6 linked regions of the Homo sapiens genome follow. The protein of the gene in region 1 purifies or fractionates together with the protein of each later gene. This does not show direct contact. Each region holds a gene or a part of one and is shown in the gene's direction. Other genes may lie near its edges. The genes, in order: TH, TAB1, MTFR2, KDM3B, ZBTB34 and MAP3K7.

Region 1 (3,149 bases):
TCTCTGCCGCCAGGGAAGTGTCCCAGAGACCCCTGGAGGGGCTGCTGACACCCCCGGTGCCCCCACCTCGAGCATGACCCAGGGCTGCCTCTCCCCATCCTTCATCCTCCCTGCTCCACAGGACATTGGCCTGGCGTCCCTGGGGGCCTCGGATGAGGAAATTGAGAAGCTGTCCACGGTGGGTTGACCCCTCCCTGCAGGGCCTGGGGTGTGGGTTTGGGGGTCTGAATCCAGGCCTCACCCTCTTGCCGTCCAGGCTGAGGCCTCTCCTTCCACCCACGAATTGTGACCCTCACCCTGGCCTGCCTGCATCCTGGCCTGGCCTCCCTGGGGGTGGTATCCTGGTCACGGGTGACCAGGGGCTGCCCGGTGGGCGGCAGCTGTCTCTGGGCTGATGCTGCCCGGCTTCCCCGCAGCTGTACTGGTTCACGGTGGAGTTCGGGCTGTGTAAGCAGAACGGGGAGGTGAAGGCCTATGGTGCCGGGCTGCTGTCCTCCTACGGGGAGCTCCTGGTGAGAGTCTCTCCTTGCTGCAGCCCCCAGCAGAGGGGCAGGGCTGGGGGACGGTGCAGGGAGGGGACAGGCTCCCAGTGGGAGGAAACTGAGGCCTGGACCTCCAGGACTCAGGCTCTGTTTGGGAGAAGGCTTGTCTCTGCCCAGTCCTCACCCCACATTATCCCAGGCCTCCGAAGGCCCGGCGGGGGAGATGGGGGTGACTCTACCCAAGGAACCCACCCAGCGTCAGGCCACGGTGCCCCAGTTCCCTCGGGGACCTGGGTGCAGTGGAGTCAGTGATGCCATTGGCCTCCTGCCAGCACTGCCTGTCTGAGGAGCCTGAGATTCGGGCCTTCGACCCTGAGGCTGCGGCCGTGCAGCCCTACCAAGACCAGACGTACCAGTCAGTCTACTTCGTGTCTGAGAGCTTCAGTGACGCCAAGGACAAGCTCAGGTGGGCTAGGCTGCTAGGGCAAGCCCCCCATGGTGCCCCCAAACTGGGCCAGCCAGGCCTTCCTTCTGGCCTTGAGCAGGGCTGGACCTGTGAGCCCAGGTCACAGATGAGAAAACCGACCCCTGGTTGCAGCAGCCCCCACACAGCAGGGACACCATCCGTGAGAAGGACCCCAGCGTCTGGGGAGGGGCAGACCTACAGGACTGGGGGCTGCTGGGTGGCCGGGTCAAGGCCAGTCTTGGAGGTGCTGACAGAGCCTGAGCTTTGTGAGGACGTCCTGTGGAACCTGTCCCGGCCCCCTGCCCTGGGATGGGGAGAAGTCAGGGGGATAGACAGAGTCAAGGTGGGGGACAGGGCGGGAGTGGGGTCCCCAGGGCTGGGGGCCTTTGGTGCAGTGACCAGAGTGTCAGGAGAGGGGAGCAAAGCCCTCTAGCCTCATCCTCATAAAAGGTCTCATCATTTTCCCTCCAGCCTCTTATGCACTGGGGAAACTGAGGCCAGGGGCTATGTGTCCAGCGGACAGGGGTGCTGAATTCCACCCACAGGCTTAGGGATATGGTCAAGGAAAGCTTCCTGGAGGAGGCCCAGTGGAGGTTCAGGGAGGGATGGGGTGCCCGGCAGTCTCTAGTGGAAAAGGCGCCTAGCCTATCTCCCCCATGAACCCCCTCACCCAGCCCTGGAAGAGGCCTCAGTGTCCCGCCTGTGACCAGTTGGCTCAGAAAAGCCCTGGGAGCTCTGAGCCACTGTGAAGGTGGAAACGCGGCCCCTGGCCTCCCCTCTCCTGGAGGCTGCAGACTCTGCCCGCCAGTTGACGAGGGCTCTGCCGCTCTCCTCCCCAGGAGCTATGCCTCACGCATCCAGCGCCCCTTCTCCGTGAAGTTCGACCCGTACACGCTGGCCATCGACGTGCTGGACAGCCCCCAGGCCGTGCGGCGCTCCCTGGAGGGTGTCCAGGATGAGCTGGACACCCTTGCCCATGCGCTGAGTGCCATTGGCTAGGTGCACGGCGTCCCTGAGGGCCCTTCCCAACCTCCCCTGGTCCTGCACTGTCCCGGAGCTCAGGCCCTGGTGAGGGGCTGGGTCCCGGGTGCCCCCCATGCCCTCCCTGCTGCCAGGCTCCCACTGCCCCTGCACCTGCTTCTCAGCGCAACAGCTGTGTGTGCCCGTGGTGAGGTTGTGCTGCCTGTGGTGAGGTCCTGTCCTGGCTCCCAGGGTCCTGGGGGCTGCTGCACTGCCCTCCGCCCTTCCCTGACACTGTCTGCTGCCCCAATCACCGTCACAATAAAAGAAACTGTGGTCTCTACACCTGCCTGGCCCCACATCTGTGCCACAGAGACAGACCCTGGGATCCTCAGACTCCCACACCCCCACCCCAGCCTCACTCAGAGGTTTCGCCCTGGCCTCCTTCCTCCTCTGGGAGATGGCTGGCCGCCCTGGCCAGGCAGCTGGCCCCTCCGGGCCTGGTTTCCCCGCTCACCCTGAGGCCCCGCCCAGCTCTGAGCCCCAAGCAGCTCCAGAGGCTCGGGCACCCTGGCCGAGCTGCCCCATCTCCGTGGGGTGCCCTCCCAAGGTGGGGAGCCACGTGACAGTGGGAGGGCCTCTCTCAGGCCTGGCAGGGAGCAGGGGTCACAAACTGTGCTGGCTGGGGGTGGTCTCAGAGGTGGGCCTGCAGGCCTAACCCTCCCTGCTGACAGGGCTCCCAGCCCTTGAGAGAAACAGGGATGGAGGAACAGCTGCCCTGATGCCCTCACCCACCCGGAGCAGGCCCTGCGAACCAAGGGGAACCTCAGTGTGGCCCCCAGCATGTGTGCTGATGGGGAGGGTCTGGCTGAGCTGGTGCCCAGGCAGATGGTCTGGGCCTGTCTCCCCAGCGAGGCAGGATGGGGGCTGGATTTCAGACTCTGTAAGATGCCCCTGGCTTACTCGAGGGGCCTGGACATTGCCCTCCAGAGAGAGCACCCAACACCCTCCAGGCTTGACCGGCCAGGGTGTCCCCTTCCTACCTTGGAGAGAGCAGCCCCAGGGCATCCTGCAGGGGGTGCTGGGACACCAGCTGGCCTTCAAGGTCTCTGCCTCCCTCCAGCCACCCCACTACACGCTGCTGGGATCCTGGATCTCAGCTCCCCGGCCGACAACACTGGCAAACTCCTACTCATCCACGAAGGCCCTCCTGGGCATGGTGGTCCTTCCCAGCCTGGCAG
Region 2 (3,955 bases), on another chromosome or scaffold:
GGTGTGAGATGAATTGTGTATTTCCCTCTGAGGACACCTCCTCTGGACATCACCCCAGCGCTCATGGCAGCAGAATGGGCAGTCATCATCACACGGCCAAGCCCGTGCAGAGCTCTGGATGTACCTTCTTTTATGCATTCCCTACTCAGGCCCCCTGAGGCAGTCACTGCCATCACCCCAGAGGCATTTTCATAAGAGGAAACTGAGGCATGGAGACATCAGGCAGCCCACCCTGGTCATGGGGCTTGAACACAGGCAGCCTGAATTTGGAATATGTGTCCTTAACCGTCAGGTAACCTGTATGTGAAGTGTTGGTTGGGGAGATAGGCGCGTCCACTTGCCTGATGCCAATCATGGCATTTAATGTCATGGCCAAGGCTGTTCCCAAAGCCAGAGTTCCCATCAACAGAGGCCTCATGGCCTAGAAAGTGCATGTTAGAACTCCTTGCCCTCACGCGATCTAGGCAACTGAGTGTCGAATATTTGTCCCTAATTTGTGGGGTCCTGTTTCCTTTATTGGAAAGGACATCCATAGTTTAAAACACTTCAGACAGTGCTGGGGTCTATACAGGGAAAGGAAGTCTTCCTACACCACACTCTAGGACTCGCTGCCTCCCCAGAGGCTGCTAGTTTCTTGTGTATCCTGTTCCAAAATCTGGCCACATGCACATATACACACACGGTGTCTCTGTGTGTGTGTGTGTGTGTGTGTGTGTGTGTGTGTGTGTGTGTTTGTCCTGGGGGCCAAGGAGCCTGCATCCTTTTCGGAACACCCAGGTGCTGGGGTGTCTCTCTCTGTGTGTGTGTGTGTGTGTGTGTGTGTGTGTGTGTGTGTGTGTGTTTGTCCTGGGGGCCAAGGAGCCTGCATCCTTTTCGGAACACCCAGGTGCTGGTGTGTCCTGCCCCTCCCAGGTGCTGGTGTGTCCTGCCCCTCCCAGGTGCTGGTGTGTCCTGCCCCTCCCAGGTGCTGGTGTGTCCTGCTCCTCCTTCTTTTCTTTTTTTTTAAACCCTAAGGTGTAATTGGCATATGCAAAGCTGTGCCTATTTCATGCATACAACTTGATGAGTTTGGAGATATGTTTACACACCCCTCACTGCTATCATTAAAGGTGCTCATCTCTTCATTCTGCTCACCTGCAGTTAGGATGGCGTCATTCTGTGTAATAACCGCTCCCAGGGCCCAGCCCTGGCTGACGGACCCTCAGGAAGTTCTTAGACTCCGCTCTTCTGGATGGTGTTGCCAGCACCTCCTCATGTACTTACCTCCATGTGCACACACATGTGTTGGCATGTAATGACTCTGACCCCAGTCACTAAAGGATCCCTGTACACATGGAGAGTATCTGGGGTCTCAGCCATCTGTTTTGGAAAAGCCCAAATAATAGCAAGAGGCTTGGGCTCCCAGGGATAATCCCTCCCTCTTGCTGTCCCACACCCTGCCCTGCCACCACCGGACCCTGTGAACAGGACGTATGGAACAGGCCAGAATCGGGCATTCAACCTTTGCCATCCTGACCTCAGCTGCCTGCCAGTTTTTATGGCCTTCCAAGCTTTATTTTAGCAGCTGCTGTAAGACGATGGGTCTATTTTTCTGACCTTCTCTTTCTCTCTTTTCTTTTCCTCTTGTCAGGTTGTGTGTTTTATTTTACATTCTGGGCATAGATTCCTCCCCTCAGCAGAATCAGCATCCACCTGCGGGCTGTTCCAAGCAAAGCTCTTCCTTCCACTCTCTCCCCATAGCGCTGCCAAGTCCAAACCAATCATCGCAGAGCCAGAAATCCATGGGGCACAGCCGCTGGATGGGGTGACGGGCTTCTTGGTGCTGATGTCGGAGGGGTTGTACAAGGCCCTAGAGGCAGCCCATGGGCCTGGGCAGGCCAACCAGGTGAGTTGGGCCCAGCCACGCCCATGGCCGGAGAGCGTGGCTGGCCTGCATGGTGATGTGCTCACCCTGCCTTCTAGCACTGTGATTCTCGGAGGCCGTCACCAGACATCTCTGGGTTCAAAGCTGGGGGAAGGAGAATCCCAGAGCTCTGAAAACACCCATCCCACCCAAAAACTTGACTCATTTTAGGCTTGAAGCAGTGCCAGTCCTCAGGGCCTGAGCAAGGTCTGAAGGGAAGAGGGGGAGATGGATGTGAATTGCTATGGGCACGGCATTACTCTGAGACGGCCAGGAAGGGGCCAGGGCCAGGAGGAGAGCACAGAAAGAGATGTGCAGAGTCCTTCCCACACCCATCACTTCCTGCCAAGGGCCTGACGGCTTTACTGCCCTCCCTGAGTGGCAGACAATTTATAGTTTGCTTCTCATTTCTTTTTTTTTTTTTTTTTTTTTTTTTTGAGACAGCGTCTCCCTCTGTCACGCAGGCTAGAGTACAGTGGCATGATCTCGGCTCACTGCAATCTCCGCCTCCCGGGTTCAAGCAGTTCTCTGCCTCAGCCTCCCAAGTAGCTGGGATTACAGGTGTCTGCCACCACGCCCAGCTAATTTTTGTATTTTTAGTAGAGACAGGGTTTCACCAGGCTGGTCTCCAACTCCTGACCTTGTGATCCACCCACCTCAGCCTCCCAAAGTGCTGGGATTACAGGCGTGAGCCACCGCGCCCGGCAGTTCACTTCTCATTTCTACAGTGAGGATGGTAACATCTGCCTTTGTGAGATCGCAGTGAGGTTAGGCGTGGTAGACACAGGCCCTCAGCCAAGAGTTGCTTATTTTTCTTATACCTTGGAGTCACCAAAGTGTGACTTCAAGACAGTCACGTTAGGGATGGTCTCAAAGGAAAACTGTCTTTCCCTGACCTCCTTGGATTGCTGACTGGCTAAGATAAGTTCAGTTTGTGTTCCTCCTCCTTTCTGTGATTCTTGTAGGAAGATAACCTTTTCTGCTTTGACTTTTTTTTTTTTTTTTTTAAGACTTGCTGTGTCACCCAGACTGGAGTGCAGTGGCGTGATCACGGGTCACTGCACCCTCAACCTTCTGGGTTCAACCGATCCTCCAGCCTTAGCCTCCTGAGTAGCTGGAACTATAGGTGTGTGCCACCACACCTGGCTAATTTTGGTTGTTTTCTTTGTTTTGTTTTTTTGGTAGAGACAGGGTCTCACTGTATCGCCCAGGTTAATCTCAAACTCCTGGTCTCAAGTGATCCTCCTACCTTGGCCTCCCAAGATGCTGGGATTGTAGGCATGAGCCACTGTGCCCAGCCTGCTTTGTCCTTTTTAATTAAAAATCATGTATTGGCCGGGCACAGTGGCTCATGCTTGTAATCCCAGGACTTTGGGAAGCCGAGGCAGGCGGATCACTTGAGGTCAGGAGTTCGAGACCAGCCTGGCCAACATGGTGAAGCCCCGTCTCTACTAAAAATACAAAAATTAGCCGGGTGTGGTGGCAGGCACCTGTAATCCCAGCTACTCAGGAGGCTGAGGCAGGAGAATCGCTTGAACCCGGGAGGTGGAGGTTGCAGTGAGCCAAGATCGCACCACTGCACTCCAGCCTGAGCAACAGAGCAAGACTCTGTCTCAATCAATCAATCAATATCATGAGGAAAAAGTCTTCTTTAAAATTTGAAAATTAATTTTTATTTCAGTAGCTTTTGAGGTACCAGTATTTTTTTGTTATAGGGATGAATTATGTAGTGGTGAATTCTGAGATCTTAGTAAACCAGTTATTCCAGTAGTGTACATTGTAAGTAATGTATAGTGTTTTATAGTGTACATTGTAACTAATGTATAGTGTTTTATAGTGTACATTGTAACTAATGTATAGTGTTTTATAGTGTACATTGTAACTAATGTATAGTGTTTTATAGTGTACATTGTAACTAATGTATAGTGTTTTATAGTGTACGTTGTAACTAATGTATAGTGTTTTATAGTGTACATTGTAACTAATGTATAGTGTTTTATCCCTAGCACCACTGCCATCCTCCCGCCTTGAGTCTCTAAAGTTCCATTATAT
Region 3 (3,955 bases), on another chromosome or scaffold:
ACAGCGGGTGCAAGTCAGGTCATTGGAGAGCTGAGTGGGGAAAGAGGAGCAAGAGAGAAGTGTCTTATTTAGCACACGCCCTGTGTTCAGCAGGGCGCCCACGCCCCATGCTCTCACTTTCATCAGCTTTCCAGCTTCCGGCATCTGGTTGCAATTCTTATCTCCTGTCTCCCCTTCTAATCTCTTTGTCCTTGTGGATATATAGATCTTTTTCATTTCTTTACTGTCATTTTAGTAGGATTTCACAAGGGATTTGCCATGCTTACTTGGAAATCCCTCAGTGAGGTTTTCGGTGAGAAAATAGATATATTTTCTGTATGATAGTCCTGGGACAGATAAGTCAGTTCTGTTTTTAATGAGGTTGTGAGTTTGATCCTTGCAACGATGCAGAAGGGCTCATTTTAAGTGAAATCCTTGTGAAGAGGAAAGAGAAGGGAAACCAGTAACCACAGGAAGAGCATGAGGCAGCTTGTTGAGAAGAATCTCATGGCTGTAGGTGCATGCTTGGTCCCAACTAGATCTTGTACTTGTGTTGTCGGGCTTAGTATCAAGTGGCAACTCTGTGACTGTTACCATCACTGGAAAAACAACTAAAAGGCCAGTAGCCTCTGCCTCCTGTCCCCCTATTCTCTCCTGAGTTGCCTCTACAGCTAACTTTGTTTTGTACGTTGCTGAGGAATCAGATGAGCTCTCTCACCTCTTTACACCTACAGATTCCCCGTGCAGATTCTCTGCCTTCCATCTTGCTGTTGGGAGCCAAGTGTCATCATTCATGGCCAGGCTCTTCCTTTGGTTACTGGTTTCCCTTCTCTTTCCTCTTCACAAGGATTTCACTTAAAATGAGCCCTTCTGCATCACTGAGTCTTCCTTCTATACTTCATCCTTCTCCTCACACCTGAGTACTTCCCACCTTCAAAACACATGTACTCTCAGCCGTTGTTCTGTTGTTCTGCTCCCCTTTCTGATATGAATTCTTGAAGTCGTCTATAATTTGTTTCTGTCTATCGCTGCTGCCTTCTACCCATGAAAACTCCATTGAAAACTGCTTCACCAGTGACTCCATGTGGCTAAATCCACTGGTCTCTTAGCATTGCTCGTCTTAGTTGACCTCTTGGCAGCATTTGATACAGCCTATGGTCCCCACCTCCTTGGAGCACTTTCTTTTTTTTTTTGAGACGGAGTCTCGCTCTGTTGCCAGGCTGGAGTGCAGTGGCGTGATCTCGGCTCACTGCAACCTCTGCCTCCTGGATTCAAGTGATTCTCCTGCCTCGGCCTCCCGAGTAGCTGGGACTACAGGCATGTGCCACCATGCTCAGCTAATTTTTGTATTTTTAGTAGAGATAGGGTTTCACCGTATTGGCCAGGATGGTCTCGATCTCTTGACCGCATGATCCGACCACCTTGGCCTCCCAAAGTGCTGGGATTACAGGCATGAGCCACTGCGCCTAGCCTGGAGCACTTTCTTTACTTGGTTTCTGGGAAAGCATACCCCCAGGTTTCCTCTGACCTCATCAGCTATTCCTTCTTATTCCTTAAACTCTTCCCCCTGGGCCTGGTCTTTAAATGTTGAAATACCTGGTTCAGACCTCAGCCCCCTCTCTTCTCTGTCCATGCTGTTTCCTTTGGTGAGCTCACCTAGTCCTATGACTCTAAATACCAGCTGTATGCTTATGACTCAAACGTTTATTTTTCTAGCCCTGACCTCTCCTCTTGAGCCCAGATGCACATACTGAAATGCCTACTTGACATCTTTATTTGCCTGTCTCACAGGTATCTCGTTTCACAGGTCCAAAACAGGACTTTTCCTTCCTACCTGTTCTTTTCCGCCACCTTGAAAACCTGTTCTTTCCCACGTCTTTTGCATATTAGCAAATGGCAACACGATCACCCGGTTGCTTAAGATCTAGGAATCAGGCCAGGTGCGGTGGCTCACACCAGTAAACACAGCACTTTGAGAGGCTGAGGTGGGCAGATCACTCGAGGTCAGGAGTTCGAGACCAGCCTGGCCAACATGGTGAAACCCAGTCTCTACTAAAAATACAAAAATTACCCTGACATGATGGCGCACACCTGTAATCCCAGCTACTAGGAGGCTGAGGCAGGAGAATTAATTGTTTGAGCCCGGGAGGCGGAGGTTGCAGTGAGCCACTATACTCCAGCCTTGGTGACAAAGCGAGACTCCGTCTCAAAAAAACAAAAACAAATATCTAGGAATCATCCTTCATCTTTATTTTCCATTCTATCTCCCACCGTTCCCATCAGCACATAGCTCAATTCTGTGGACCTCTTGACCTCCACTGCCAACTCCCCAGGCTAAGCCCATTCTTATCTAGCTTAGACTTCCGCAGCAGCCTCCTCAGTGATCTGTTTTCATTCTTGCCTCCTTATTTATTCTGCAGATAGTGACCAGAAGTCAGATCAGGCCATTCTCCTGCTTCAGACTCTTCTGTGGGTTTCCGTTGTGCTTGAATCAGTTCTAGAGCCCTTGCTGTGTCCGTAGGCCCCTCCAGGAGCCAGCCCTCACTTCTCTCGCTGAGCTCCTCTCCTATGCCCCATGTTTGCCCACTGCACTCCAGCTGCAGTTGCTTTCTTTTTTCCGTTTCTCACACATGCCAAGCTCCTTCCTGATGCAGCCCCAGATGTTTACACTAAAACTGACCCCTTGTCATTTTCTTAAAGAGGATGTTGCTTCCTTAAAGAGGCTTTTTTTCTGATCATATCTAAAGTGCTTCTGTCCCTAATCACTATTACATTTCCCTATTTTTTATTTTTTAATTTAGTTTTTTTTTTTTTTTTTTGAGACAGGGTGTTGCTCTGTCACCCAGGCTGGAGTGTAGTGGTGCCATGACTTGCTGCAGGCTTGACCTCCTTGGCTCAAGTGATCCTCCTGCCTTAACCTCCCAAGTAGTTGCCTGGCTAATTTTTAAATTTTTTCTAGAGATGGGGTCTCGCTATGTTACCCAAGCTGCTCTCGAACTCCTGGGCTCAGGCAGTCCTCCCACCTTGGCCTCCTAAAGTGCTGGGATTATAGGCATGAGCTACCGTGCCCAGCCTCTGTTTTGTTTTATTCACAGCTCTTATTACCAGCCAAATGATCTTACTTGTATATTGATGATAATCTTGCTGTAAGAATTGGGAGCAGAATACTCCCAAAGCATAAAATGGAGTCGGATGTGGTAGTGGGCATTCAATGAAGATTAAATGAATGAACAACCAAACAAATGAACAATTTGCGTAATTTTTTTTTTTTTGGCATGAACTCTCGTCCTTTTAAAAGTTCTTATTTATTTGAATTTTCCTACCCATTAGGAAATTAGAAAATTACCATAATAAAGATCTTCAGCATAGTGACATCTGACAAATCTCAGGTCATAACAAGGTTATGGCAGAGTCTCAAGTCACATGGGTTCTTGGTTTTCTGATTCTTCATTCATTGTGCCTTCCTTATTTCATTGCGAAAATTTCTTGAAGATTAGATTATTTTCAATCTCTTGAAGACTAATTAAATTGTAAGATATGCTTGTATTCCTGCCATGTTTGTCAACAAGGAGCTAAAATTACATCCAAGTTTTAATAAATTCAATTTTTTTTTTTAAAAAATAGGTCACCTGGCGGTAGACCCATTCATAAGAGGAAAAGACAGAATTCACATTGGGATCCAGTTTCTTTAATATCTCATGCACTTAAACAGAAATTTGCATTTCAAGAAGATGATTCTTTTGAGAAAGAGAATAGATCTTGGGAATCTTCCCCATTTTCTAGTCCAGAAACTTCAAGGGTAAGCTACACTAATGTAAAATTAATTTTTCAGTTTTTCTCAGATGTGTTGTTTATGTTACAGCTTTGTGTTCAAGTTCTCTTGAAGTAATTGTGCAGAATGGGCTATATAATTGTTTATTGATGCTGCTAATGTTTCTGGGGTTTTTTTGTTGTTAATTTTATATGCTCATTTTCA
Region 4 (3,955 bases), on another chromosome or scaffold:
CCACCGCACCTGGCCTGGTTTTCTCTTCAGACACGCACAACCAACTGCTTACATTCCATGGCCTTTCTGGCAACACTGCTACAACACATCGTTGATGATAAGAGGCACAGGGATTAATGCTGAGGGTTCTTGAGATATATTTTCAGTAGAGTTGACTATATAGAGTATGTAAATAGATAAAGCAAATTATTTAGAAAAATCAGTAAGAGTAATAAACATTTATTTAGCATTTATCTGTGTCAGAACTATGCTAAGCCCTTTGCATATGCTATTTTATGTAATCCTAAGAACAGCACTACGAGGTCATTTAAATTACCAATTCACCATTGCAGAAATTGTGTCAGGCATGCTAACTATTTTAGATTACAAACTTCAAGCCTTGTTCACTGATCTTTCCACAGAAGCTAGCCTGGTTTCTGGCATGTTGTAGGACTCAATAAATATATGTTGAATTAAATAATGTATGAAATGCCAGTTTACATGACAGATTATTCTTCCCAGACCTATTTAGTATGTGAAGCCATTACTAGTTGTATTTTTTTCTACCCAAGCACAGCACTCTAATTATGTTGGCCTTCTGCATTTTAGCTTCCTAGCATAAACCCTAGTGCCTCTTCTGGAAACGAAACTACCTTCTCTGGTGGAGGAGGACCGGCACCAGTAACAACTCCAGAGCCGGACCATGTTCCCAAAGCCGACAGCACTGACATCAGATCTGAAGAGCCTCTGAAAACAGACAGTTCGGCATCAAATAGCAATAGTGAACTGAAAGCCATCAGGCCTCCTTGCCCTGACACGGCCCCACCCTCCTCCGCCCTGCACTGGTTGGCAGATTTAGCAACTCAGAAGGCTAAAGAAGAAACAAAAGGTGAGATGCACACAAACCTCTGCTCTGCCTATGGTAGAAATCATGAGTTTTTTCCAGGATTCTTTGAACTCACACATTACCATCCACATTTATGAAACATGCTACTTACTTTCTCTGGCTAATCACATGAGGGACTGCCGGGGCCTGGCGTGGTGGCTCACGCGTGTAATCCCAGCACTTTGGGAGGCAAGGCGGGCAGATCGCGAGGTCAGGAGATCAAGACCATCCTGGCTAACATGGTGAAACCCCGTCTCTACTAAAAATACAAAAAAATTAGCTGGGCGAGGTGGCGGGTGCCTGTAGTCCCAGCTACTTGGGAGGCTGAGGCAGGAGAATGGCATGAACCTGGGGGGCACAGCCTGCAGTGAGCCAAGATCATGCCACTGCACTCCAGCCTGGGTAACAGCAAGACTCTGTCTCAAAAAAAAAAAAAAAAATATATATATATATATATATACATATATATATACACACACACATATATATACACACACATACACACACACACACACACACACACACACACACACACACATATATATGAGGGACTACCTTTCAACTTCTTTCTAGAAGTGGAACTTCTCTAAAAAGGCAGATGCCTGGGCCCTACCCTGGATCTCTAGTCAGAATTTATACAAGGGGTTTTTTTTGTTTGTTTGTTTTGAGACGGAGTTTTGCTCTTGTTGCCTGGAGTTCCGGCTGGAGTGCAGTGGCGCGATCTTGGCTCACTGCAACCTCCGTCTCCCAGGTTCAAGTGATTCTCCTGCCTCAGCCTCCCAAGTAGCTGGGATTACAGGCATGTGCCACCACGCCCAGCTAATTTTTTTGTATTTTTAATAGAGACGAGGTTTCTCCATGTTGGTCAGGCTGGTCTCAAACTCCCGACCTCAAGTGATACACCTGCCTCGGCCTCCCAAAGTGCTGGGATTATAGGCGTGAGCCACCATTCCCAGCCATATACAAGACTTTTAACAAGCTTCTGAGATGGTTCTGTTATGCAGCCAGGGTTGAGAGCTAGACTTAGAGCAGAAGTTTTCACTGGGCACAAGAATCATCTGGGGAATGGTTAAAAATGCAGATTCCTGTGTCCCGCCCAGAACTATGAAATCAGAATCTCTGGGGGTAAAGATCTCCATTTTTAACAAGCACTCCAAGTGACTTCAGTACAGGTATCCTGAAGATACACTTGAAACACTGTCTTAGGAAGTGAGGGAGATGAAAGATGGATGACAACAAAAGGGAGTTTGAAATTCAGATCTGGTAAAGAAGTAGTAGGAGAGTTTCTCCTTGGCTGTGAGACCTCCTATAATTATAGCTTGTAAGGCTTGACCCAAACAAACCATACACAGTTTGGGGGGTGCAAGGGAAAGGAGAGAATCTTTCCTCCTTCCCATGTGACTGATTTTTAGGAGTCAGTTGTGTGCTGATTATTCCTTTTTGTACCTAATGCTGTTCCTGGTTATGTTCTTACAGAAGCAGGGTCCCTGAGGTCGGTGCTCAATAAAGAGTCTCATTCACCCTTTGGGCTGGACTCGTTCAACTCCACTGCAAAGGTCTCTCCGCTGACTCCAAAGCTTTTTAACAGTCTGTTGCTGGGTCCCACTGCCTCCAACAACAAAACCGAAGGGTCTAGCCTTCGAGACCTCCTTCACTCCGGGCCGGGAAAACTTCCTCAAACCCCCTTGGACACAGGCATACCCTTTCCCCCGGTCTTCTCTACATCCTCAGCAGTAAGTGTCCTCTGCAACTGTAGCCTTTTCAGCTTTTCCATGAAAGAACCATCAGAGATCAGATAATTGGGTTAGAGGGTACATGGGTGATTTGTGTTCTCTACATTGTCAAGCTGACAAGGTCTCTCTTTAAAGTTTTGGGAATCTTTTTAAGTAGTGAACCTTTTGTACCATGTTAGGAAGTCTGTAAAAGTTGAGATTTTGAAATGTTTCGGTCATCAGCAGAAAAGTTAATACATTGATTGCTTGTTTTTCTTGATAATAGCAGGCATTAATTTTTTTTTAACCTGGACAGTACATTTGTATTGTATTCTCTTGGATATCTAATAGATGTCTCAAACCTTTAATGCGCCTAAGCCTGAACTCCTGATCTTCTGACCATAAGCTTGCTTCTCCTTAGTTTTCCCCTACTGGTTGGTGGCATCTCTGCCCTTGTGATTGCTTGCACCAGAAATCTTAGAATCATTTGGGACTCGCCTGTCTTACCTTTCATATCTAATTTGTTAGCAAATCCTTTCAAATTTGATCTTCAAACTATATTCAGAATCCACTCATTTTTCATCAGCTCTGTTGCTTCCTCTGTTCTGAGCCAACATCTTGCCTAAGTTTTTGCAATAAATTCCTTACAGGTCCCCTTGTTTCTGCCCTTTACAGTCTACAGTGTATTTTCAACACAGTAGCTAGAGAGGTTCTTTTAAAATATGTCATCCCATGGGAGGCTTTTTATTAAGAAATAAAGAAAAATAAAAGAAAAGGAGAAAAATAATAAAATATAAGTCAGATCATATCTTAACCTCTGCCTGAAATCCTTCAAGGGCTTCCTTTTTCTCTCGTAAGATGAGCAGAGTCCTTGTAGTGCTTACAGATGAGTAGAGTCACGCACCTGGACTATGAGGCCATAGCCCTATCTGTTCATCTTGCTCTCACCTCCCTGTCTTCAACTACCACTCTCTGTTCTGTTCACTCCGTTCCAGCCACACCCACCTTCTTGCTGTTCTTTGAACATGGCCTGGCATGCTCCCTCTTCAGGGCCTTTGCACTTGTTATTTCCTCCACCTAGAATTTCTTTCCCATGTAACTACCTCACTTGCTTCATCATCAGCTCCCTCACCTAAACCTTCAGTAACCCTTTCTTCATACATCACCCTTTTTAAAATTCCATCACACTGTCAGTTCTGCACATACCGATTTTCCCTGCTTTGTTTTTTTCACAGCACTCATTACCATCTGACCTATTACATGTTTGATTTTCTGTTTCTTGCCTCTCCTAAAGGCATTTTTGACTGTTCTATAATATATCCCTAGTGCCATGGTGTTTGATCCAGTCATGTTTAGTAAGCATTTATTGAATGAATGA
Region 5 (3,955 bases), on another chromosome or scaffold:
TTTCGAAACTCCCAACATTTCATTTTGAAAAACCTCAAACAGAAAAGGTGAGAAAATTTCACAATAAGTGCCCAGATATCCACCATGTAGACTCTACAATTGTTAACATTTTACTGTGTTTGCTTTATCACATATCTGTCCATCTCTTTTTTGGAGATACATTCTCAAGTTGAAGACATGAGTAAACTTCACTCCTAAACCCAGATTTTACGTGTTTTCTCATTGTCTAAGTAGTTTTATTCCATTTAGATTTTTTTCTGATCTAATACTTAGGAGGTGTTTACATTTCTGTTGGTCAGGTTTTAAAATATAATTGTTAGATCTGGTTTTGTTATGTTTCTGTCAGAGGATGGAGCCGGGGCTATATATACTTAAGTAGTTCTGAGCAGTCTGGCGCTGCAGATTTTAGGCCACAGGAAGGAAACCTGTTGTAGGTGTGCCGCAGCTGTGAGCGCTAGTAGAAGGTGATTCCTTTTGATGTGTCCATCACCCTTTCACTCTTGTTGTCTAAAATAACTACTGTTTAAAAACACTGTCTTGGCAGAGCGCGGTGGCTCACGCCTGTTATCTCAGCACTTTGGGAGGCCGTGGCAGGCAGATCACTTGAGGTCAGGAGTTCGAGACCAGCCTGGCTAACATGGTGAAACCCCATCTCTACTGAAAATACAAAAACTAGCTGGGTGTGGTGGTGCACGCCTGTAGTCCAGCTACTCAGGAGGCTGAGGCAGGAGGATCACTTGAACCCAGGAGGCAGATGTTGCAGTGAGCCAAGATCATGCCATTGCACTCCGGACGACAGAGCGAGACTCCATCTGTAAAAATAAAATAAAAATAAATAAAATAAAATATTGTCTAAAATAACTCTTCACTGGTCGGGTGTGGCAGCTCACACTTGCAATCCTAGCACTTTGGGAAGCTGAGGTGGGAGGATCACGAGCTCAGGAGTTCAAGACCAGCCTGGGCAACATAATGAGACCTCATCTCTAATAAAAAATAGTAATAATAGGCCGGTGTGGTGACTCTTGCCTGTAATCCCAGGACTTTGGGAGGCCGAGGGGAGCAGATCACCTGAGGTCAGGAGTTCGAGACCAGCCTGGACAACATGGTGAAATCCCGTCTCTTCTAAAAATACAAAAATTAACTGGGCATGGTAGCGCATGCCTGTAATCCCAGCTATTCAGGAGGCTGAGGCATGAGAATTGCTTGAACCTAGGAGGCGGAGGTTTCAGTGAGCCGAGATCACGCCACTGCACTCCAGCCTGTGCAACAGAGCAAGATTCTGTCTCAAAAAAAAAAAAAAGTAATAATAACTCTTCACTGAAGGAGACTGAGCATGGTAAGTCTCAGCCAAAGCAACCCAACCCAAAAGAGATATAAAGGTGTACAGAGCTGAAGGGCAAACACACAAATCAAGACAATAATACTGAAAAGGGTTTAGCTCCATTTATTGTATCCAGTGTGCTACAGAGTTGAAAAATACCAATCAGAAATACACAAGTAAGGTAGAACATTTTTAGATGAATTTAGTTTTGTTTTTGTTTTGTTTTTTTTTTTTTTTTAGAAGGAGTCTCACTCTGTCCGCTAGGCTGGGATGCAGTGGTGTGCTCTCGGCTCACTGCAACCTCTGCCTTCTGAGGTCAAGCGATTCCCCTGCTGCAGCCTCCCAAGTAGCTGGAATTACAGGTGCACAACACCACACCAGGCTAATTTTTGTATTTTTAGTACAGATGGGGTTTTACCATGTTGGCCAGGTTGGTTTCAAACTCCTGACCTCAAGTGATCCGCCTCCCTCAGCCTCCCAAAGTGCTGGGATTATAGGTGTAAGCCACTGCGCCTGGCCTGAATTTAGTTATTTTTCACAAAGTACTTCAAACCCTCAAAAGTACTTGAAATGGGGAAATATTTTTCCTAAAAGGAGACCAATTTCTCAGTCAGAGCCAAAATAGTCCTACTATGTGTAAAATATTTTACTTTTGATCAAGATGAATATTAGGCAATTATGACATTAGGCTAATTGATCATTAGTTTATTTGGCTTTAGGTGAATTAACCAAAACATGAAAGACTAAAACAAGGGGAAGAATGCTTCAGGTAGATTTTAGGAGGTATGATAGCCACAATGGTATTGTTGTTGTAAGCTTGTGTTTATGCCACTTGTACTTAGTGAGGAGTCATTGGTGAATGATGCAAACTCTCTCTCTCCGCAGAGTACGCTTCATGTCAGTAGAAATGGACAGCAGCAGTTTTATTCAGTTTGATGTGCCCGAGTACAGCAGCACCGTTCTGAGCCAGCTAAACGAACTCCGCCTGCAGGGGAAACTATGTGACATCATTGTACACATTCAGGGTCAGCCATTCCGAGCCCACAAAGCAGTCCTTGCTGCCAGCTCCCCATATTTCCGGGACCATTCAGCGTTAAGTACCATGAGTGGCTTGTCAATATCAGTGATTAAAAATCCCAATGTGTTTGAGCAGTTGCTTTCTTTTTGTTACACTGGAAGAATGTCCTTGCAGCTGAAGGATGTTGTCAGTTTTCTGACTGCAGCCAGCTTTCTTCAGATGCAGTGTGTCATTGACAAGTGCACGCAGATCCTAGAGAGCATCCATTCCAAAATCAGCGTTGGAGATGTTGACTCTGTTACCGTCGGTGCTGAAGAGAATCCCGAGAGTCGAAACGGAGTGAAAGACAGCAGCTTCTTTGCCAACCCAGTGGAGATCTCTCCTCCATATTGCTCTCAGGGACGGCAGCCCACCGCAAGCAGTGACCTCCGGATGGAGACGACCCCCAGCAAAGCTTTGCGCAGCCGCTTACAGGAGGAGGGGCACTCAGACCGCGGGAGCAGTGGGAGCGTTTCTGAATATGAGATTCAGATAGAGGGAGACCATGAGCAAGGAGACCTATTGGTGAGGGAGAGCCAGATCACCGAGGTGAAAGTGAAGATGGAGAAGTCCGACCGGCCCAGCTGTTCCGACAGCTCCTCCCTGGGTGACGATGGGTACCACACCGAGATGGTTGATGGGGAACAAGTTGTGGCAGTGAATGTGGGCTCCTATGGTTCTGTGCTCCAGCACGCATACTCCTATTCCCAAGCAGCCTCACAGCCAACCAATGTATCAGAAGCTTTTGGAAGTTTGAGTAATTCCAGCCCATCCAGGTCCATGCTGAGCTGTTTCCGAGGAGGGCGTGCCCGCCAGAAGCGGGCTTTGTCTGTCCACCTGCACAGTGACCTGCAGGGCCTGGTGCAGGGCTCTGACAGTGAAGCCATGATGAACAACCCCGGGTATGAGAGCAGTCCCCGGGAGAGGAGTGCGAGAGGGCATTGGTACCCGTACAATGAGAGGTTGATCTGTATTTACTGTGGAAAGTCCTTCAACCAGAAAGGAAGCCTTGATAGGCACATGCGACTCCATATGGGAATCACCCCCTTTGTGTGCAAGTTCTGTGGGAAGAAGTACACACGGAAGGACCAACTGGAGTACCACATCCGGGGCCATACAGATGATAAACCATTCCGCTGTGAGATCTGCGGGAAGTGCTTTCCATTCCAAGGTACCCTCAACCAGCACTTGCGGAAAAACCACCCAGGCGTTGCTGAAGTCAGGAGTCGCATTGAGTCCCCCGAGAGAACAGATGTGTACGTGGAACAGAAACTAGAAAATGACGCATCGGCCTCAGAGATGGGCCTAGATTCCCGGATGGAAATTCACACAGTGTCTGATGCTCCCGATTAAGATGGTAAAGAAGTGCACCCAAACAAAGCACATTAATCAATGCATATTTGTGATTTGCTTTGTTGTAATCTTTGGTTTTCCCAACCATCTGGAAATCTCTTGGTCTCTTGGCAGTTTTTCTAAAGTTTCTGGATGGAACACTTCGTTGTGTTTATCCTTTCCCCTGCCCTCCCTCCCCGAAGGAGCTCAAAGCATGAAGGGCAACGCATCCAGGGAAAACACAG
Region 6 (3,955 bases), on another chromosome or scaffold:
TTTTTAACCACATATGATGTTAGAATGCATCCTCTTCATTAGTAAAGTTACTTTACATTTGCTTGGGAAAATAGCTTTTCATGAAGGAAAATTACTTACCTTCTTAATTTTAGCGCCACTCTTAGTTATTTCATTTCTATGCCTTGTTTATAATCATGTGACTAATGGCCATTTTTTACATTATTCCACAAGTCTAAAAACAAATGTCTGCCTAATTATTTAGGTCATTCATAGATTTATCAAACAGTACCATCATCTGAGTAATCTTAGCTGTTTTTACCAGTTTCCTATACTGCCTTTAATATTACTACCATTAGTATCATTGTGGAGACTGTTCAGCATTGACCAGGACAGCTTGCTTGCTTGCTTTCTATCAGTTGTCAGTAAATAATTGAACGTCCGTGAAGTAAAGAGTAAAAGAACTAACTTGTTAATTGATAAAATTACAAAGCACTTTTATTACTCCAAATTACAGATCTTAAACTACAAGATCTATAAAATAAATACCACTTTGGAAATACGTACAAAGAGTTTGCATCATTCTTTGGGTAAATACATTCTTCCCCCCTTCCTCTCATTTTCAATTGTAGGTACTCGACCACCACTGATAAAAAATTTACCTAAGCCCATTGAGAGCCTGATGACTCGTTGTTGGTCTAAAGATCCTTCCCAGCGCCCTTCAATGGAGGAAATTGTGAAAATAATGACTCACTTGATGCGGGTATAATCCTTCTTTTGAGGGGCTTTGGATTTAGGGGAATTTAATATGTGCTGAGTTTTAATGGAATTTTAAAAGGGATGTTATTACTATATTCTGCTTTATATATTGCTATGTTTTCTAAGTGAGAATGGGCATTTATTACTCATAGTCAGAAGAGGAAACATTTCGAGAGGGAAAATCTAGTTCTTTATCACTGGAAAGATGGCTAGACTAGGTTTCTAGACTTGCTTTTTTCTTTTTGCTTACATTAGTGGACAAGTATGTTTGTCTCTGGGCCTGTTGCCTCATTTGTAATGTGGGAGAAACTGAAATAGATAGTCTCTAAAGCCATCACAGGACTTGGATATATTAATATTATGACTTCAATACATGATAAACTAAATTTTACATTTTTCTGATACCAATTTTCATCAAGCATTTAGTCATTTATGCAAGGCAATAGGTTGCATTCTCAGACACATTTATTTGAGTGACTTTTACTATTTGGCCTATTTTCAGGTTTTTATATCCCAGTAAAAAGTTAAACTTTCTTCTATTTAGAAGAACCCTTTTAAATGATTATCAAATTTTCCTAGTCTGTGAATCAAGCGCCTTTAGAATTATTTGGAATATTTTACGCCTCTGGTTTTTGGTACATTAACAAAAACTGTGAAGTGGTATCTTGGCTTTAAAAAGTTCAAATATCTATGAAAGTGCCTGAATTTTGAAACAGTTTGTTCAGTAGAAGAATCTTACAATCTCCTTAAATATAGACTAAGTAATTTCCTAAATGGTAAAACGTTGTTTATTCAATCTATTGAAAATTTCTTACGCAAAGCAGCTTGAACTAATCTACTAAAAGTTTACCATCGTATTTGGATACCAGTCATATATAGAAGCCTAGGCCTTAAAGGTGTGTGCATAAGAAAACAACTTAGTCTCTGTAGTCAGATTACTTAAAACTTTAGGATATATAAGTTATTGCAGTTGTAATTTTGCTTCTCTGTTCCTTGTCTAATTTGAGGAGAATACGTTTCCTTTTTTTCTCTAAATTCTAACATTTTTGTCCAGCAGATACTTTGAGTATTATGCCTCCAGTTTGTAGAAAGACATTCATAATCTATCCTCTTAATATTTAAAATGTTCTAACAATTATTCTATGGTATACTAGTCTCAGTCTTCAGACTAACAGTCACTGGAAGTTTACATCACTACTGTAAGAACATGAGTATGTTTTACATAATTATGAGAAATGATACTATTTTATTTCATATGTTTCTCTAGAGAAATATTTGCTGTTTTCTTCAAGACTATCTAGACTCCAATGTAAGCTAGATTCTTAGGTAGGTGCATGGCATTGATCAAAGTTGAAATCCAAGAGTACATTATTGTAATCTTTGTAAAATAAAAAACTTAGGCACCTACAAATTTAGTATATAACTTAGGGAAAATAAAACATTAATCAGGATTTAATTTGTATTAAGGAAATTTTAAGCTGTGGTTTACTTTTTTATATATAGTACTTTCCAGGAGCAGATGAGCCATTACAGTATCCTTGTCAGTATTCAGATGAAGGACAGAGCAACTCTGCCACCAGTACAGGTAAATGGATAGATTGGAAGAGTATTGACTTGATTTTTCTTTCATCTCTATTCCCATGAAATTATAATCAAGAAGTAATGAATAATGTCCCCATTTGCATTTTAATTCCTTCATTTCATATGATTGACTGCAATTTGAGTTTACAGGTGCGTCATTCTTCATGTAGGTACCCTGATTAAAGAGTTATTGAAGACCTGCTTCCAAGTCTTAGAATTCCTACATAATTATGAATAAAAAGATGGCATATTGTATTACAGTGAATGTCATTCTTAACTTGAAAAATCACTTTTACATGCATACTACTAGATCAAGTAGTATTAGAAATTATTGTAAATGTATTTAAACATTTCTTCATCACGAACACCCTAGTTTTTGTTCTCTTCTACAGAGGCTCTGATTTAAGAAGCTATGTTAAAAGTTCCTTAGTTTTCCGAAATGTGAAGTAGTAGTGGGACATGTAATTTGTGGTCATCAAAAAGATAGTAGAAATAATACTGTAACTTAGAAATATTGTACTTCTCAAAATATAGTGGCATTATAAGCATTTCATTATTAATTGAAACTTAAAGATATGTGTGTGTCTATATGCACATGTATTTACCCTGCATTTATTGAAAAATACTTTTACTGATCTATTTCTCCCACCTCAAGAATAGTTTTATTTATTTTAAGATGGTTACTGCTTGGCTAGTTATTCTCAAATTCCAGTTTTACTGAAAATATTTTGAGTTGCTCTGAATTCTAAAATGTACTTCTCTAAAATTCTATCATTTGTGTCTCCCACGTCCTCTAAACTCTCTCTTCATTTCCTTACTGTGACCTTGAATTTTTTGAGCCTCCCACCTTTTCACTGGTCCTCAGTCCTCTTAGGTCCTTTTTTCTTTCTCCCTCCACTTAATTCCAATCAACTATTATAATTCTTTTGGGAATAATTTTCATCTTTCTAGCCTCTCTCTCAAGCTTGCTTGGCTAAACCACAAGCCTAATGAAAGCTGACACTCGGCTTACTCCTTGCCTGTACCAATGCAGCTGAGTGTGGCTGGAGATAGCACAGGTTTACTATCCTCACGTGCATGTTTAGTGCTATTGGACAGTTGTACTGTATTGTAGTTCATCTCTTTCCTCCTATATGTCTTAATTTTATACTGTAGCCTCTCCTCAGACTTCAAACACCTCCTCGCCACTCCTCACTCTCAGCTGATCTTGTTTGCTCTTTCTCTGAGAAAATTGGAGTAATCGGAAGACAGCTTCCACAACATCTGTGCCCATCTACTCTGCTTTCTTCTGTTACTCTGGCTAAACTATCCATACTTCTGGCCAAAGGTGTACCTTTCTGCCTGTGCATTATATCCCATCTGCTCCTCTGAGCAATTCTCCCCTGTCTCTTGCATCATCAGTTTTAGCTTTCTACTGGATCATTCCTAAAACATACGTAGTCTGTATTTGCATTCACTAGCTTCTCTTTTCCCCTTCTTTCTTGAGCTGACTCCATTCAGACGTATTATGCCAGTACTTCAGAATTGTTCTTGTCAAGGTCACTAGTTATCTCTACATCACTACATTTAAGGAATCATTTTCATTTCTCATCTTGACTCTCAGTAGCACTTGACCTAATTCATTACTTTCTCCTTCTTACAGACAGCACTTTCTTCA

The links.
Region 2: the proteins of TH (region 1) and TAB1 purify together in Homo sapiens (affinity purification with mass spectrometry; one large-scale study listed by BioGRID and IntAct). This does not show direct contact.
Region 3: the proteins of TH (region 1) and MTFR2 purify together in Homo sapiens (affinity purification with mass spectrometry; 2 studies listed by BioGRID and IntAct, with this or other methods). This does not show direct contact.
Region 4: the proteins of TH (region 1) and KDM3B purify together in Homo sapiens (affinity purification with mass spectrometry; 2 studies listed by BioGRID and IntAct, with this or other methods). This does not show direct contact.
Region 5: the proteins of TH (region 1) and ZBTB34 purify together in Homo sapiens (affinity purification with mass spectrometry; 2 studies listed by BioGRID and IntAct, with this or other methods). This does not show direct contact.
Region 6: the proteins of TH (region 1) and MAP3K7 purify together in Homo sapiens (affinity purification with mass spectrometry; 2 studies listed by BioGRID and IntAct, with this or other methods). This does not show direct contact.

The regions. Positions count from the first base shown.
Region 1 is NC_000011.10:2,163,031-2,166,179, reverse strand, and holds the end of TH (tyrosine 3-monooxygenase), read left to right. Parts: intron 1-121; coding exon 122-178; intron 179-416; coding exon 417-512; intron 513-814; coding exon 815-948; intron 949-1,787; coding exon 1,788-1,947; 3' UTR 1,948-2,251; downstream 2,252-3,149. UniProt on the Homo sapiens protein: Catalyzes the conversion of L-tyrosine to L-dihydroxyphenylalanine (L-Dopa), the rate-limiting step in the biosynthesis of catecholamines, dopamine, noradrenaline, and adrenaline. Uses tetrahydrobiopterin and molecular oxygen to convert tyrosine to L-Dopa.
Region 2 is NC_000022.11:39,420,087-39,424,041, forward strand, and holds part of TAB1 (TGF-beta-activated kinase 1 and MAP3K7-binding protein 1), read left to right. Parts: intron 1-1,740; coding exon 1,741-1,885; intron 1,886-3,955. UniProt on the Homo sapiens protein: Key adapter protein that plays an essential role in JNK and NF-kappa-B activation and proinflammatory cytokines production in response to stimulation with TLRs and cytokines.
Region 3 is NC_000006.12:136,233,148-136,237,102, reverse strand, and holds part of MTFR2 (mitochondrial fission regulator 2), read left to right. Parts: intron 1-3,603; coding exon 3,604-3,778; intron 3,779-3,955. UniProt on the Homo sapiens protein: May play a role in mitochondrial aerobic respiration essentially in the testis. Can also promote mitochondrial fission.
Region 4 is NC_000005.10:138,418,365-138,422,319, forward strand, and holds part of KDM3B (lysine-specific demethylase 3B), read left to right. Parts: intron 1-588; coding exon 589-868; intron 869-2,341; coding exon 2,342-2,598; intron 2,599-3,955. UniProt on the Homo sapiens protein: Histone demethylase that specifically demethylates 'Lys-9' of histone H3, thereby playing a central role in histone code. Demethylation of Lys residue generates formaldehyde and succinate. May have tumor suppressor activity.
Region 5 is NC_000009.12:126,877,184-126,881,138, forward strand, and holds part of ZBTB34 (zinc finger and BTB domain-containing protein 34), read left to right. Parts: intron 1-2,206; coding exon of another isoform or gene 2,207-2,216; coding exon 2,217-3,731; 3' UTR 3,732-3,955. UniProt on the Homo sapiens protein: May be a transcriptional repressor.
Region 6 is NC_000006.12:90,548,815-90,552,769, reverse strand, and holds part of MAP3K7 (mitogen-activated protein kinase kinase kinase 7), read left to right. Parts: intron 1-590; coding exon 591-721; intron 722-2,220; coding exon 2,221-2,302; intron 2,303-3,955. UniProt on the Homo sapiens protein: Serine/threonine kinase which acts as an essential component of the MAP kinase signal transduction pathway. Plays an important role in the cascades of cellular responses evoked by changes in the environment.